2 separate regions of the Homo sapiens genome follow, and region 1 is linked to region 2. A link means that fine-mapping ties the variant in region 2 to the expression of a gene that starts in the linked region. Tissue or cell type: whole blood. Region 2 holds a variant in brackets; the other region holds the start of a gene. All regions are shown on one strand. Distances are between the middles of the regions.

The links. PIP is the estimated chance that this variant, and not a neighbour inherited with it, causes the effect.
Region 1: ZSWIM8-AS1 starts here. The variant in region 2 is fine-mapped to the expression of ZSWIM8-AS1 in whole blood (TOPMed, PIP above 0.99).

Annotation. Positions count from the first base shown.
Region 1 is chr10:73,798,288-73,806,382 of GRCh38, reverse strand. ZSWIM8-AS1 (ZSWIM8 antisense RNA 1) reads left to right here and starts at 4,984. Exons shown (of 4, transcript NR_038357.1): 1 at 4,984-5,043; 2 at 5,824-5,880. ZSWIM8 (zinc finger SWIM-type containing 8) reads right to left here. Exons shown (of 26, transcript NM_001367799.1): 20 at 7,930-8,095; 21 at 6,893-7,381; 22 at 6,213-6,372; 23 at 5,911-6,087; 24 at 5,624-5,743; 25 at 5,188-5,366; 26 at 4,590-5,067. The coding sequence ends at 4,864. NDST2 (N-deacetylase and N-sulfotransferase 2) reads left to right here. Exons shown (of 15, transcript NM_003635.4): 6 at 1-94; 7 at 355-483; 8 at 614-796; 9 at 1,514-1,610; 10 at 2,367-2,490; 11 at 2,635-2,809; 12 at 3,024-3,194; 13 at 3,302-3,411; 14 at 3,607-3,709; 15 at 3,807-4,467. The coding sequence ends at 3,932. NDST2-ZSWIM8-AS1 (NDST2-ZSWIM8-AS1 readthrough) reads left to right here. Exons shown (of 18, transcript NR_182658.1): 6 at 1-94; 7 at 355-483; 8 at 614-796; 9 at 1,514-1,610; 10 at 2,367-2,490; 11 at 2,635-2,809; 12 at 3,024-3,194; 13 at 3,302-3,411; 14 at 3,607-3,709; 15 at 3,807-5,043; 16 at 5,824-5,880.
Region 2 is chr10:73,769,698-73,777,793 of GRCh38, reverse strand. It overlaps SEC24C (SEC24 homolog C, COPII component), which reads right to left. Exons shown (of 23, transcript NM_198597.3): 19 at 8,061-8,096; 20 at 7,779-7,958; 21 at 7,323-7,514; 22 at 6,996-7,085; 23 at 5,633-6,839. The coding sequence ends at 6,699. It overlaps POFUT4 (protein O-fucosyltransferase 4), which reads right to left and starts at 5,518. Exons shown (of 3, transcript NM_173540.3): 1 at 4,753-5,518; 2 at 3,979-4,604; 3 at 1,575-2,253. The coding sequence starts at 5,460. The coding sequence ends at 2,109. RefSeq lists enhancers at 4,207-4,256, 4,101-4,631, 4,917-5,026, 5,617-5,796 and a silencer at 5,237-5,286. The variant T/C (reference allele first, on the strand shown) is at 4,104.

The DNA of each region.
Region 1 (8,095 bases), 29 kb before region 2:
ATCCGTGTGGGGCATCCAGGTGACCAGCACTGAGGAGTATCCCCATCTCCGCCCTGCCCGCTACCGCCGTGGCTTCATTCACAATGGCATTATGGTGAGGGACTCCCAATACAGGCTTGAATCAAACTCTAACATTTAGACAGCTTTCAACATGCATTGACCTATGTTCTCTATCAACTGCCAGTCCAAGTATGGGGGTACATAATTGGGGGTAGAAAGGTGAAAAAATTTTAACACCCTCAGTAAGAGCTTTATTGCTATAACTTCAGACTCAGTCCTCTATAAATCCCAGTGTCCTCCATCTACTTCTCATTCTATCTTTCAAATCTCATCTGTTTTTTCTTTTCCCTCCAGGTGCTGCCCCGGCAGACATGTGGCCTCTTCACTCACACAATCTTCTATAATGAGTATCCTGGAGGCTCTCGTGAACTAGACCGGAGCATCCGAGGTGGAGAGCTCTTTCTGACAGTGCTGCTTAATCCGGTAAGGTGCTGAGAGGAACGGCTAGAAGATTGGAGAGCCAAGGTGTTTGCAGGCTGGGACCTTTATTCACCAAGGCTAATTCAGAGGTGGGGTAGGCTCTCCAAATCTGACATGCAGGTACCCCTTACAGATCAGCATCTTTATGACCCATCTGTCCAATTATGGAAATGACCGGCTGGGCCTATACACCTTTGAGAGCTTGGTGCGCTTCCTCCAGTGTTGGACACGGCTGCGCCTACAGACCCTTCCTCCTGTCCCACTTGCACAGAAGTACTTTGAACTTTTCCCTCAGGAGCGAAGCCCCCTTTGGCAGGTAAAGGTGGAGCTCAGTCTGATGAGAGACATGATAGGGGTGGGGTGTTTTTTGTTGTTGTTGTTGTTGTTTTGAGACAGAATCTCGCTCTGTCACCCAGGCTAGAGTACAATGGCACAATCTCTGCTCATTGCAACCTCCACCTCCCAGGTTCAAGCGATTCTCCTGCCTCAGCCTCCCTAGTAGCTGGGATTACACGCACCCGCCACCACGCCCGGCTAATTTTTTGTATTTTTAGTAGAGACGGGGTTTCACCATGTTGGTCAGGCTGGTCTCGAACTCCTGACTGCAGGTGATCCGCCCGCCTCAGCCTCCCAAAGTGCTGGGATTACATATGTAAGCCACTGCGCCCAGCCGGGGTGGGGGTTTAAGAGAAGACTAGGCCAGGCCGGGCACGGTGGCTCATGCCTGTAATCCCAGCACTTTGGGAGGCCGAGGCAGGCAGATCACCTGAGGTCAGGAGTCTGAGACTAACCTGACCAACTTGGAGAAACCCTGTCTCTACTAAAAACACAAAATTAGCCGGACATGGTGGCACATTGCCTATAATCCCAGCTACTCAGAAGGCTGAGGCAAGAGAATTGCTTGAACCCAGGAGGCGGAGGTTGCAGTGAGCCGAGATCATGCATTGCACTCCAGCCTGGGCAACAAGAACGAAACTCCGTCTCAAAAAAAAAAAAAAAATAGGCCTTATCTGATTATTGGCCCTGGCTTCAGAATCCCTGTGATGACAAGAGGCACAAAGATATCTGGTCCAAGGAGAAAACCTGTGATCGTCTCCCGAAGTTCCTCATTGTGGGACCCCAGAAAACAGGTGAAGTATCCTTAGCTAACTTCTCTTGCCCTGCCTTAAACCCAAAGGATCCTTTTGTCAAGGAACTCTCTTCTCTCTCCAGGTAATCACAGGAGTGAAAAAAGTATTTTTAATTTTAATAATTTTTTTTTTTTTGAGATAAGAGTCTCACTTCTTTGCCCAGGCTGGAGCGCAGTGGCACGATCTCAGCTCACTACAACCTCCACCTCCCAGGTTCAGGCAATTCTGCTCAGCTTCCCTAGTAGCTGGGATTACAGGCAGGTGCCACCACACCTGGCTAATTTTTGTATTTTTAGTAGAGACGGGGTTTCACCATGTTGGCCAGGCTGGTCTCGAACTCTTGACCTCAAGTGATCCGCCTGCCTTGGCCTCCCAAAGTGCTGGGATTACAGGCATGAGCCACCGCACCCGGCCTTAATTTGAATTTTTAAGAGAGAAAAAAAGGAACTCCTTTTATACCCACCCCTCATTGATCCAGTCTCTTGAGGCAGTGATTCCTAACCCTGGTTGTATATCAGAATCATCTGTGGTGTTTTTACAAGATCACAAGTCATTCTGGTGCACAGTTAAAGCAGAGAACCACTGTTTTAGCCCTTCCCTGGGCCTCTCTCAGACTTGCCTCCTATCATTGTAGTTTGGCCATAGGGGATTTTCCTACCCAGAGTGGTTATTTTTTCACTTCCTTCAAGCTTATGCTGTTGAGCTGGCTTCCCTCCCACAATGGCTGCCTGAAGCTGGTCTTTCTCTCCCATTTAGGGACTACAGCTATTCACTTCTTCCTGAGCCTGCACCCAGCTGTAACTAGCAGCTTCCCTAGCCCCAGCACATTTGAGGAGATTCAGTTCTTCAACAGCCCTAATTACCACAAGGGTATTGACTGGTGAGACTGGGCCCCATTTGAATGTTTCTCAGAGGAACACTCCCTTCCCCCAAAATACCCCATTCCAGCTTCCCTCAGCACAGACTTCTGGCCACTTCACTCTGCATATTTTTCTGCTTCTCTCTCTTCTGTGCTACTTCCTAGGTACATGGATTTCTTCCCTGTTCCTTCCAATGCCAGCACTGATTTCCTATTTGAAAAAAGTGCCACCTACTTTGACTCTGAAGTTGTACCACGGCGGGGGGCTGCCCTCCTGCCACGAGCCAAGATCATCACAGTGCTCACCAACCCTGCTGACAGGGCCTACTCCTGGTACCAGGTCTGCCTGAAGCTAGGGACACACAGGCTAAAGGTTGGGGGGAGGGGGGAGGGGACAGTGACTGCTAGAGAGGGAGAAAGGAGTGAGGTTTGAGAAACTTAACTAGTGCCTTGGGGACGGGTACCCGTGCTGTGCTGTCTGTCTCCAGACCAAGCGTAAGGGCAGAATACTGTCAAATCACCAGTCCTTCACCTTCCTTCTCTTTGTCCTTCAGCATCAGCGAGCCCATGGAGACCCAGTTGCTCTGAACTATACCTTCTATCAGGTGATTTCAGCCTCCTCCCAGACCCCTCTGGCACTACGCTCCCTGCAGAACCGCTGTCTTGTCCCTGGCTACTATTCTACCCATCTACAACGCTGGCTGACTTACTACCCCTCTGGACAGGTATAATCCCCACAAGAGCCCTCAGTGGGGTTCCCCTTCCCCTCTTCTTCCCTTCAGCCCAGAGGCTTCTTAGGAATATAGAGGGAACCACATCCCTGTCCTTTTAGTTGCTGATTGTGGATGGGCAAGAGCTGCGTACCAACCCAGCAGCCTCAATGGAGAGCATCCAGAAGTTCCTGGGTATCACACCCTTTCTGAACTACACACGGACCCTCAGGTGGGAGAGCATGACCCAGGGGAGGAGTACTGTATGGGAAATGGGGAAGCAGGTTGACCATGTCTGTTAGAGACATAGATTTACTCTGTCTCACAAGGAGAGACATGTCCCTGTGGGCAGGGAAGGGCATTGTGCATTTATGGAACTTGAGTTTCTCTTTTCCCTGCCACCTCATGGCCTCTTCCTGTTGAGCAGGTTTGATGATGATAAGGGATTTTGGTGCCAGGGACTTGAAGGTGGTAAGACTCGCTGTCTAGGCCGGAGCAAAGGCCGGAGGTATCCAGATATGGACACTGAGGTAAGTAAAGCCAGGGGCAGGGGAATCCCTCTCCACTTCCAGGATCTGATTCTGTGTCCCACTTCTTACCATTTCTGCCTTCATTTTCTCCTGTCAGTCCCGTCTTTTCCTTACGGATTTTTTCCGGAACCATAATTTGGAGTTGTCGAAGCTGCTGAGCCGGCTTGGACAGCCAGTGCCCTCGTGGCTTCGGGAAGAACTGCAGCATTCCAGTCTGGGCTGATGTCCCAGCCTCCCATACCAGCAAAATGCCCCCTGCTTCCCTAAGGGGCAGGTCCAGAGCAGGGCCCACAAGGGGGATTAGAGTGGCCTGGCCCCTCCCCCTCTACCTCAGTAGCCCCCAGGCCTGAGATGGCTGAGAAGGGAAGGGTATCCTTTTCCCACAGTTCTGGGACAAATAAAGGGGCTTCCTTTGGTACCCCACATAATAGTGCTAGGTACCTTTGACCCATCATCTTGGGAGGTGGGGAGGAATGAGAGGGTCCAGGCAGGGTGTAGGGGAATGTATTAGTCCAATGAGATTTCCCTCTTCATCCGCAGCAGTGTATCTATTCTATACCTGGCTATGGGAGAGACCCCTTGCATGGGAGGGACCCCTTGCTATGGCCCCTTTAGCCAGGCAGTGGGATCTACCTGTGGCCCGGCCTCCCTAATGTCATTCACATTGAATGGGGATGAGGTCGGACAGTGGCTCATAGAGCCGAGTATGAGCCCTAGCTGTGGGCTAGAAATGTCCTTAATAAACATCCTTATTTTTCTGTTTTGTCTGCCTCCCTGGAGTGGGAAAAACCTAGACTAAAGCAAGTGTCAGAAGTTTCCTCCCCAGTTGAAGGTTCATCTGCACATGGAATTTGGAAAGAAGGGAAAGGCCCAGGTCGACTAGAGTAAAAAAGGAGTTTATATATTTATAAATGCCAAATAAATACCAGAGGCCACCCAACGCCCCCTCCCAGACAGGGCTGTCTCCCCCAGCCCTAGGCTTCTAGGGTGTGAGACATCTTGGCCCCAAGCTATAGCCCAAGAGCAGCTGTCAGTCTGTGCTACCAGGGAACTGAGTGAGGATGATCTGTCCAGCCAAGTTTCACTCCCCCTGTGTGAGGGGCCCCCATAGCCACAGGCCTGGGTCCCTGTATAGGACCCTAAGGGTGAAAGACTCAGGGGGAGAAGGTGGCCATCTCGAGTGAGACCCGCTGCCACAGCTCCTTGGTCTGTTTGCTGCGCTTGAGGTTCTGTAGGATGTCGTTGAACTGCATCATGCCCATGGGCGTCAGGCAGAAGGCGCTGCGGGCACTCCGGATCGCATTCACAAAGTCGTCGTAGTCCGCAGGAGTCAGGTGAATCAAGCGGTGGTGGATGTACTGGAGGAGGATGTGTGCAGGATGAGCCTTAGTACAAAGCACAGAAACAGGCCCTGCCTCCCTCTGGTCCAAGACCACCCAGGAAGTGCTCCACCCTGCTCCATAATTCTAGGTTGTCACCTGCATGTATGCCTGCTGGCAGCGCTGCACCAGTTGGTGGAAGGCCGGGGCACGCAGGTGGTTGTGGGCATGAGCGGGACTCAGCCGCTGCAGCGTCTCCATGACGATCTCCTGCAGCACAAACGGGCTCAGCACCCCCTTGGCTGCCCCCACACAGAACTGGTGCACGTAGTTCACTCCTGGGGGGCAGGGGGAGGGGCATGAGACGGGGGTGGCCACCTCTGCCCTAGGGACCCAACTTACAGATCTCAGCTCTGGCCTGGCAGAGAGCCTCCCTCCACCCCAGGAGCTGAGGTAACCCTCCGCCCCCCGCGCACGCACACATACCCGACCAAGGCCTCAACTCTGAGCAAGAGCTAGGAAGGAGGTCTGGGATAAGGAAGGTGGGGAGAGCAGGTGGGGGGGGGGCAATGGTCCTAGGGAGGGGAGGTGTTACCCAGCTTTGCTGCCAGCCCCAGCAACCATTTGACATCATCAGTGTAGGGGGGGGAGCGGGAGAAGTTGTTGGGGTGATCGTTGTGTGCCCGGCGACCCAGCATCTCCAGTGCCAGCATTCCTGGGAGATAGATAAGGGTGGGCACATGGTACGGTGTATCCTCTTCACCCTTTACCCCAACCTGTCACCTGACCCCACAGTAAACAAATGAAGAGCTAGAGGAAGGGTCCTCTGAAGAGCCACTGGCACAACTGCAGGTAGGAGCACAGAAAGGGATGTCCTCTCACCGACACGGTAGGCAGCATGCAGGTGGTGCAGGCTGTGGGGATTGACTGGCTGACTGTGTGTCTCCTCCTCGGGCGGTGGAAAACCTCCGCTCACCAGAGGGCTGGGCTGTGTGGTCAGGGCAGGCAGTGAGGCACCTTGGATGGCTGGAAACGTGGATGCTGGATGGACACTGCTCACTAAGTGGGGTGAGAGCCATGTGAGGAACTCAGAGCCCAAAGAGAGACAAAGAACATTCCCTCCCCACCTCCCCTGCCCAGTGTGCCTCCCCTCCATTCACCTGTTCCCTGGCCCCACAACTCACAGGCCACACTGGTGGGCAGTGGAAGCCCTGGCTCTGTGTGGTAGGGATGTACTGTGATGGGTGCCATGGAAGGAACGGGGAAAGACACAGCAGTGGCAGCAAGTGAGGGAGGAGTCACTGAATAAGGGTACTGAGCCCCTAGGAATGCAGGATGCACACCCTAGGGGCAGGGAGAAGAAAGGGGAAGATGCCAAACTTGATTAGGATGTTGCTGTCGTGCTTCACCCCCACAAGCTGCTATCCTGACATGTTTTTTTTGAGATAGAGTCTCGCTCTGTCCTCCAGGCTGGAGTGCAGTGGCACGATATCGGCTCACTGCAACCTCTGCCTCCCAGGTTCAAGTGATTCCCATCTCAGCCTCCCAAGAAGCTGGGATTACAGGCGTGCACTCAGCTAATTTTTAGTAGAGACGGGGTTTCCCCATGTTGGCCAGGCTGGTCTCGAACTCCTGACCTCAAGTGATCCACCCACATCGGCCTCTCAAAGTGCTGGGATTACAGGCATGAGCCACCATGCCCGGCCGTCATTTCTTATTTTAGTTGGGCTGGGTCCCCCAGACTCCCACCACCTCACCAGGACTCTCCGACTGACCAATTATACTCCCAGAGTACCCACTCCAACCCCCTATGAATTCCCAGTATTTTCCCATGCCTTACCCCCCAGCAGAACACTGGTCTCACCTGTGGGTATGCAGAGCTGGGCACAGGGAAGACGGCAGGCCGGGGCATGTGAGGCATGGGGTGGGCAGGGTGAGCTGGGTGAGTGAGATACTGAGGGCTACAGGGCAGGTGGGGCTGTAGAGCAGTGTAGGGGTGCAGGCCAGGGGAGTGGCCATGCCCCAGTCCTGGACCCGGGTATAAACTAGACCCCACCGATATGACGGGCACCACTGTGGCTGCTGCTGTCACTGCTGCCGCTGCCACTGTAACCGGCTCAGTCCCTGGGCCCCCTCTACCCTCAGGCATACCCCGCCCAGCTTCCCCACCTGCCCTGATCCCACTGGCACTACAGCTTGTAGCCCCTTCACGGGCTGTGGATGAGCCACCTGCAGTTTGCTCATACAGCCAGAACCACTGGTGAGCAACCTCAAACAACACTTCAGGGTACACGCCCCCACCCTTAGCTGCCTCTTCCACTGCCATGCAGGCCTTCTCCAACATCAGGTTGTCCTGGAAGAGAGGGGCACAGAGTGTTAAGGGGGAAAGGCCTTTACCACATGGAAGGTGTTAGATGAGATTCCAATGTCTCCCTCAGAGCTGTCTCATTCCCAGGGAATCATCAGAGGTCAGTGTCAATGCTTAGAGTCCATTATCAGAGCAGTGAGTGCTTCACACACTGAGTAAATACTGACCAAAATGAGTCAAGACCCAGGTTATAGTCCCAGTTCCAAACTAATTTAACAGCCCCCTCCCATTCAAGTCTTAGATGTATGAGGCCTTCCCTAAGTTTTCTATCCTGAGTGATCATCTTGGTCCCTAAACCGTAGGCCTCCATTTCCTTATCTGTAAAATAGAAATAAACCTAACCTTTGAGTTGTAAGGTAAAGGAAAGATGGGTGTGAAAGCACATTAATGGGTAAAATGTTGCCATGAGAGGACCAACAATCATCTGTAAACTCCAGGATACGGGAATCAAGAGCTGGGCCCTTAGCTTTCCCATGCCCAACCTCCCTGCCCAGATGCCCCAGAAGAGGTTCCCAGATTGCCCGTAGAAATACCTGTTCCTTGCACTGCACCAGGGCCCGCTGGATCTCATTAGGGTTCAATGCATGGGCGTGAGGCAGGCAGCTCAGGGCCAGCTCTGCTGCCGCCCTCACCATATTGGAGTCTCTTGCCCGTGATGCCCTGTCAGCCAGGGATGCAACCTCAGGGGGTGTCAGGTGC
Region 2 (8,096 bases):
CACCTGAGCTCAGGAGTTCGACACCAGACTGGCCAACATGGTGAAACCCCATCTCTACTAAAAATACAAAAATTAGCTAGATGTGGTGACGGGCGCCTGTAATCCCCACTACTAGGGAGGCTGAGGCAGGAGAATCACTTGAACTGGGAATGCAGAGATTCTAGTAAGCTGAGATCGCGCCACTGCACTCCAGCCTGGGCAACAAGAGCGAAACTCCATCTCAAAAAAAAAAAAAAAGTCATAGGGAAGCGTATTAGTAATACAGTGAATGAAGCTGGACTATTCATTGCACTTAAAGTGAAAAGTGCTACAGATTATGAAATAATTACTAAAACATACAGCCACACTGTTTCCATAACTGCAGAAGATGGGACTTTGTAGCATATAAAAACAATAAAATAGAGGGAACACTTCATTAGGCAAACAAAAGAATTAGGACCTATAAAAATTTGCACTTTTTTTCCTGGATTTTTTTTTTTTTTTGTCAACCTACTCACCAAAAAATTTGCACTTTGACTCATATTGGCCTATTTTAACATTTCAAAATCATTTAAAGAAAAATATGACTTTTTCTGTCATAATTCCCAGTCTTAGTCTCTATCTTTGATCAAAAAGAGGATAGGGCAATACATTAAATTGACAAGGCATATAACAGCCACTGAATCTTTCTGTTCATGAGAAGAAATCCCAGATACACCATAAATGAGATGCAAACCAGCAGTAAGAATGATGGCAAGGTTTCTGTATTTCCATCAGAAATTGTGGAAAAGGGCCTAAAACCAGGAAAGACAAGGCCATTAAAAAAATGTATTTGAGGCCGGGTGCGGTGGCTGACACCTGTAATCCCAGCACTTTGGGAGGCCAAGGCGGGCGGATCACGAAGTCAAGAAATCGAGACTATCCTTGCCAACATGGCGAAACCCTGTCTCTACTAGAAATACAAAAAATTAGCTGGGCGTGGTGGTGCATGCCTGTAGTCCCAGCTACTCAGGAGGCTGAGGCAGGAGAATCGCTTGAACCAGGGAGGTGGAGGTTGCAGTGACCCGAGATCATGCCACTGCACTCCAGCTGGTGACAAAGCAAGACTCCATCTTAATATATATATATAATTTGAGACGGTGTCTCGCTCTGTCACCCAGGCTGGAGTGCAGTGATCATGATCATAGCTCATTGCAGCCTTAAATTCCTGGACTCAAGTGATCCTCCTGCCTCAACCTCCCAAGTATCTAGGGCTACAGGTGTGCACCACCATGCCCTGCTAATTCTTTTATTTTTTAGAGACAAGGTCTTGCTAGGATGGTCTCAAACTCCTGGCTTCAAGCAGTCGCCTCTCCTCGGCCTCCCAAAGTGTTGGGATTACAGGCATAAGCCACTACGCCTGGCCAGAAAAAGCCAAAAAAAAAAAAAAAATTAGGGCTGGGTGAGGTGGCTGATGCCTGTAAACCCAGCACTCTGGGAGGTCAAGGCGGATGGATTGCTTGATCCAGGAGTTGGAGACCAACCTGGGCAATGTGGCAAAACCTCATCTCTACAAAAAATATTTTAAAAAAATAAATAAATAAGTAAAATAGAAGTTTGACATGAAAGTATATAATATAAAAAAATCCAACTCCGGAAAACCAGAATACAACTCACCAAATGTTTTGCTTCTCCACCAACGTAACAATTTATAAAGCAAGAGATGAGAAAAAGAGATTATTGGGAAATGTACTGAATAATGAGGAGTCTGGGGAATAGAACAAAAGTTGTAAGTCGTAACCTGACCCATCTTACTTCACTGGTAATCAAGTACAGTCGAAAGGATGAAATAAAGAAGTGAGTAGTTTAAAAACTCTGTTGGACCAGCACCTTGAATCAAATGGATGTTTTAGGGTTCTGTTTCCCACTGAACCAAGAATTGTATCCCTCCATCTCTCCTTGAGGAGAGGCCCTATGTTAGACCTTGGCTACTCATCATTAAGATAAAATCTTAATAGATAAAACTGGAATTCCTTGAATCCATGAAAAGACAGTGTTCATTAAGGGTTTGTGCAGTGGATGCTCCTTATGTCCCATGGTAGAATAAGATCTCCTTAGCTCCGCCAAGTTAAAGGCTCTTGCAAGGGCACTTAGAGATGTTGCCTCTTCATGAAGATTTCATGTAGGTAATCCCAAAATTTCGTCTGCTCTGTTTCATTGTTGTGGATCATGGCAGTGAGAGCTTCCCCCTGGTCCAGACCTTGCCAATAATCTTGCAGCCACATCTCTTTCCAACTGAAATATCAAAATGGGGGTTGGATTATGGAACTGCAGCATAGTTATGAGTCCTGCCTTTTTCCGAGTGGGGCCAAAGAAATCTTAAGCAGATACAGTGGTCTCTAACTTGGACAAGACTGCTGTGAAAGGAAGACAAAGTGAAGTAAATCCAATATAAGCCCAAGCGACAGGCAGTAAGTCACAAACACAAAGACATCACACAGACTACCCAATCAATTACGATTCCTGACTTGCCTGCTTCTGGCTCCCAAATGTGGAGGGGGTTCAGAGGCAGGCAAAGCAGAGGCCAGACTGGAAGTGGCAGTCTCCATAAGGAAAGCAAGGGGGCAGGGGTCTTTAGATGATTATCTTTTAAGTTTCACCTTTATGCCAATAATCAAAATGAAGGTGCATCAAAATGAAGTAGCATCCAGTATCTAGAAAAGACATAACCTGAATATTTATTTTCTTAATGTTTCATATTTTTTCATACTTTTCCTCTAGTAAATCATATTATGTTCAGATACAAACAATTTGTAATTAGATACAAATTACTTGGTGAAGGATTCCAACCATCAGGACAAAACTGCCAGCAGCATCTGTTAATAAATGGCCTTCTGCTGCCATCCACTGTCCAAGTCGGTTTCTATAGGCCATTCTAGCAGCCTTACTTCAGCTTAATAATCTTATCACCTCTCCCCCAATAGGTGTGGCTTGCTACAAGTGGTTTCAACATTTTCCCACCCCACACCACACGCTGGCCTTGTTTCCCAGTACCACCACCTTTTGCCACCTACTACAGTAGCCTATTCGCTTCCCTTCTGATGCGCATTGTGCATTGTTTTGTGTGTGTGTGTGTGTGTGACAGGGTCTTACTCCAACCCAGGCTGGAATGCAGTGGCACGATCCTAGCTCACTACAGCATTGAACTCCTAGGTTCAAGCAATCCACCTGCCACAGCCTCCCAAGTAGCCAGGACTACAGGTATGTGCCACCACCCCAGGCTTTTAGTTTTTAAATTGTACAGAGAGGCTCTTATTATATTGTCCAGGCTGGTCAATATATTATATTATATATTATATTGTCTCTGGCCTCAAGTGTTCCTCCCCCCTTGACCTCCCAAAGTGCTGGGATTACAGGTGTGAGCCACCGTGCCCGGCCATGCCTAGTTTTTCTAGTTACACAGGCAGTGTGTCCCCACCTGCACCAACTACATGGGGCTCATCCTCAGCACAGCCGCTTAAAAAAAAAAATTATGGCTGGTTAACAGGTGTAACCCCTGACTACTGCAGAAAAGCCTCTCTAAAAGTGCTCTTCTCTACTGCCCAACCCCATTTCCACTCTATAAAAGGTGCTCAAATAGCTGAGTTGATTTTTAGTGCAGTGCAAACTCCTGAACCTGGTATTAATGATATTTATAGCCTTGTCCCTATTTATTTGCCCCATTTTCTCTCTCCCCTGTCTGCACAGGCCCTGTACTCTGGTTCAATCTTTTTGAACCACTACTGGAAACATTGTTCACATAAGCTGATTTTCATACGTTGCCTTGAATTATATTTTACATCTATTCAGCTTTTTCAGCTTGTCTTATCCCCCCAACTAGACTGTTGACACCTTAAATACAGAATGAGCCCATGTGATAATTTCCTCCTGCACCTGCTCAGCACCTAGTGCTACTTAATTGCCCACAGTAAGCAAGTAAGTAAATGATTTGATAGCTGCAGGGGACCCCAGCACTCTTACCTGTCATTCTCAGGAATCTCTTCCACATTGCCAAAGCCAGGTGTGGGCACTGGGCAGTCCATGTGTGAGGGCTGGGCAATGTGGGGCTCAAAGACGGGGCTGTCCCCGGGAGAGGCCGCGTGGGC[T/C]TTCTCGGCATCCAGCCGAGCCAGTTCGTAGTCACAGACGAAACACTCGAAGCCGTTGAGGTAGTTAGGCAGCAAAGGATCATTCACTCCCCACTCCCGATGCTTCAGACTATCCAGAAGAAATTGGTTGGTGATGCCCCCAGGTTGCTTGTATGCCAGGTATTTCATATACTCCTCATCATTCTTGTCCAGAAAGTCAATAAACTCTGCCAGCTTCTGAGGAGACTCAAAATCATCAATCAGGATGACGGAGTGATTGTTCGGCATCCAGTCCCTCACAGAGGGAGAACCGCGGTACACGGGCACAGCGCCCAGGTGCATGGGACGCCACAGTTTTTCTGTCATGTAGTCGTTACAGATGGCATTTTCCAGGGCCAAGTGGAACTTATAGCGGGACAAGAAAGCCAAGAGCTCTGGATCCTCGGTGGTGGCCGTGGCTGTGTCCTGTAGCCGCGCGGTAGGCAGCTCCCGATTCTGCAGGCATTTCCCGTAGGAGTCTACCTAGACCGGGTACAGTAAGGCTGTCATGAGGGTGCGGCCCTGGAGGCCTGGACACCTGGAGTCCTGGACACCTGGAGTCCTGGACACCTGGAGTCCTGGCCTCAACCCGCCCTCTCCTTTTCCTTCCCTCCGGCCCGCCCTCACTCACCGGGATGTGGCGCATGAGCTCGCGCACGTAGCGGTCCCGGTCCGCTGGCACGTCGCAGTGTGACTGCAGATAGAGCAGCGGCGCGTAGCCGCGGCGGCGCCACTCCGCGCGTTCCATGGGCGGAGGCACCGGGCGGCGCAGATAGGCGGTCCCGGGCAGCCACTGCAGCGACAGCGGGTAATCCGAGTGGCGACTGAAGGTGGAGGTAAGATTGAAGAGGCGGATGCCCGGGCCGTGGCTCAGCAAGAAGTTGTTGAGGGGCGACTCCTCGTGGAGGAGCGCCCAGCTCTGGTGCGCCAGGCGCGGCAGCGGGGCGGCCGACGCGCGGAAGTCTGTGCCGTAGAAGAGCAGCGCGCGCGTCCGCGAGTCCCTCAGCGCTCGGCGGTTCCGGGACGCCACGCACGCGCCGCGCGCACACTCGATGCGCTCCGAGTCTCCCGGGAAGTGGGGGAATAGCCCTGGGCTCCACCACAGCAGTACCGGCAAGTCCCCCGCCTCCTCCCTCCCTGGCCGCGGCGTCCCAGAGCTGCGCGTCACCCCCACTGCGCCCAGCGCCGAGGGCGGCCGGAAAACCGCGCCATCCCACGGTTCCGCCCACTCCGCCTCCCCGCCGGCCTCCCTCTCCGCTACGGACCCATGGCCGCTGGCTGCACAGACACTGAGCACCCCTAGAAGGACCAACACCACCCTAATGGGGCCGGCCGCCATGTCCACTCCGGCAGCCGGCGCCCCCTCGGCCAGCACCGACCCCGCCCAGCGGATAGTCGTGACCGGACGAGGCCCTACGCCACGGGGGCACGTGGCGCATGCGCAGCTCGCTCAGCCGACGGCCAGGACTAAAAGCAAAGTGAGCTTTCGGGAGTAAAGATGAGGCTAATGGTTACATCTTAATTTATTTTATTTCTTTACAAATTAAAGATGCATTGAAAAATAAACCAATGAAGAGAAATGAGAGGTCCAGAGCAGGGGCATCCCAGGTGGGGAGCAGGCAAGCCTGGCCACCATCAAGCCTAGCCCTTGTCCTGCCCCCAAGCCAGTTGGGGTTGGAAGATAACTGTCAGCCACTCAGTCAATACCAAAGCCCAAGCGGTGTCCCAGCAGGAGAGAACGGCGCTCCAGCTGCCTCTGCCTCTCTCCCCAACAACCCCGGGCCTGGAGAAGCAGTGTTTCTCGTGGGAGCTCAGAGTGGGATGTGAACTGGCTCTGTGAGGTATTGCAAGTTGATGACCAGGCTCCCTAGGCTCCCTACAGAACCATCCAGTGTTGGGGCCTCTCCAGCTGGAAAGGAAGCTGGTACCTCTACCAGATCTTAATATATTTTGCAACTCAGTTCTCCGGTCACCTCTGACAGTGTGCCTCTCTATCCACGGAGTGATCATCAATCATTGCAGGAGAGAGCGAGCGAGCAGTGAAAGCAGAGAAACTTGACTGCTAACCTCCAGGCCCAAGAAGGACTGACCACTTTTCTCTCCACCACCTATGGGCTATACCCCAGCTCTTGTGCACCTATATGTTTTATCCCTAATATAGGAAGTTGTGGATGACACTGAGCCCCCTGTAGTAACCTTAGGATCCCCACTCTTTCCTGCCTGCCCCTCTCCTCTTGGGAGACTGGTCCAAAGGGACACATAATATTGCCAGGGTCTGGGTGCCTCCAAACCCCCAATACCGAATCATATACAGTGAACTGAGAAGCTACATTCATTATGACAGGATTAGCAGGAAAAAGAGGGTAGAATGAGGGAACAGGGGCACCTTCCATCAGCAGGACATGACAGAGTGGCAGGATACTTGAGCCCAGAAAGAAGGTGTCTCCTTATATCTCCCCCTCCCCCCAGAGAGACTGAGGTCAGCTTACATAAGATATGTTACTGTCCCAATTTCTCTGACATCCTGGGGTGCTTTCTGGAAGCTAGCCTGGGCCCTATGCCATTTACCCACTTGCTTTAGCTCAGTAGCTGCCGAATCTCCTTGTGCATATGACAGAGAAAGTCCACATAAGATGCTCCCCCACTCAGACTCTTGTCTTCCACCAGGAAGTGCTTGAACAGCATCTCCATCTTGTCTTCCTGTTTCACCACGGTAAGCTACGGCCAGAATTCAGGGTTCATAAGGCAAGGCCAAAGGAAATTAAACATGCCCAGAAATCTCATTAGGCAGTCACTTACTCATTCCCCACCCAACCCCCACTTCTAGGTGAGGACTTGACAAGGTAAGAAATCCAGGGTTCAGATCAGTGTTACCTTCATGTACCGGGATCTCTGTGCCCGTAAGCTATCAATGAGGCCTCGAACCTTCTTGGACAGTGGATTATCCAGAACTGGCAGAACACTCTAGAACACAAAATTCATTTATCCTTATGGTAAGGCACTCTGAGTTCAGTCAAGGTGGGGCAGCATACATGTATGCATCATCTGAAACAGGCAAACCTGGGAAGAATGACAGCAACTGCCCTTGTCCCCAAGTGTTCCCTGATATTTGAGGGTACTAGCACACTAACTATATTGGCTCCCAATTGTTTCACAAAGTATACTTCCACACCCATATTCTCCTTGACTCCCTGCCCTCACCAAACCACTGGTGATCTGACTGAAGGAGGAGACGCTGAAAAGGCTCTGGACAACACCCTGTTGGACGCTTGCTCCCACCCAGAGGAAGAGGTTGAGCCCATTCTCCAGTAAATATATATCCCCATTGCTTAGACGCTCTTCAGAGGCTCGAACTGCTGGTGGTTCGGTAGTACTCTCAACGGGAGACTTTGTCTAGACAAAAGGAAGGGAGCAAAAGGTTACCAAGGACCATAAGACAAGTCTGCCCCCCCGCACCACACACAAAATTTTGAAAGCTAAGTCCTCAGACACCACCCCTTCTGGGGTCTCAGTAACTCTCTCAGTGTGAAAATTACATCAGCTAAAATACATAAAAACAAATTCCACTAGTGTCTGACTGATACTAGCCTATCCTTTCCTCCTCCTAAGAGGCCCTTTGCTCCGTGCAAGATCTCATACTCCAACCCTCAATCGCACCAAAGGTAAGAGCCGAGGGTAGAAGAAGACATTGGTCTCAGTCACATCCATGGAGGTAACTAGCTGTCGGACATAGGCACGGTCATCAGTAGTGACTTCAGCTCCAGGCTGCAGGACATCACTCTTCAACACACAGTTCAGGTAAACTGGGAGTAGCTTCATGCACTCAGGAAGGATCAACTGAGGGGATTATCAAAATAAAGTCAATGATCATGAGAAATCCCTCCCAAATGCAAACATTTGTCCCAACAACCCCACCTCCCACTAATATACTTGCCCCACCTGTCCTGCAGAGGAGGGGCTAGCACAGTTCTTTCT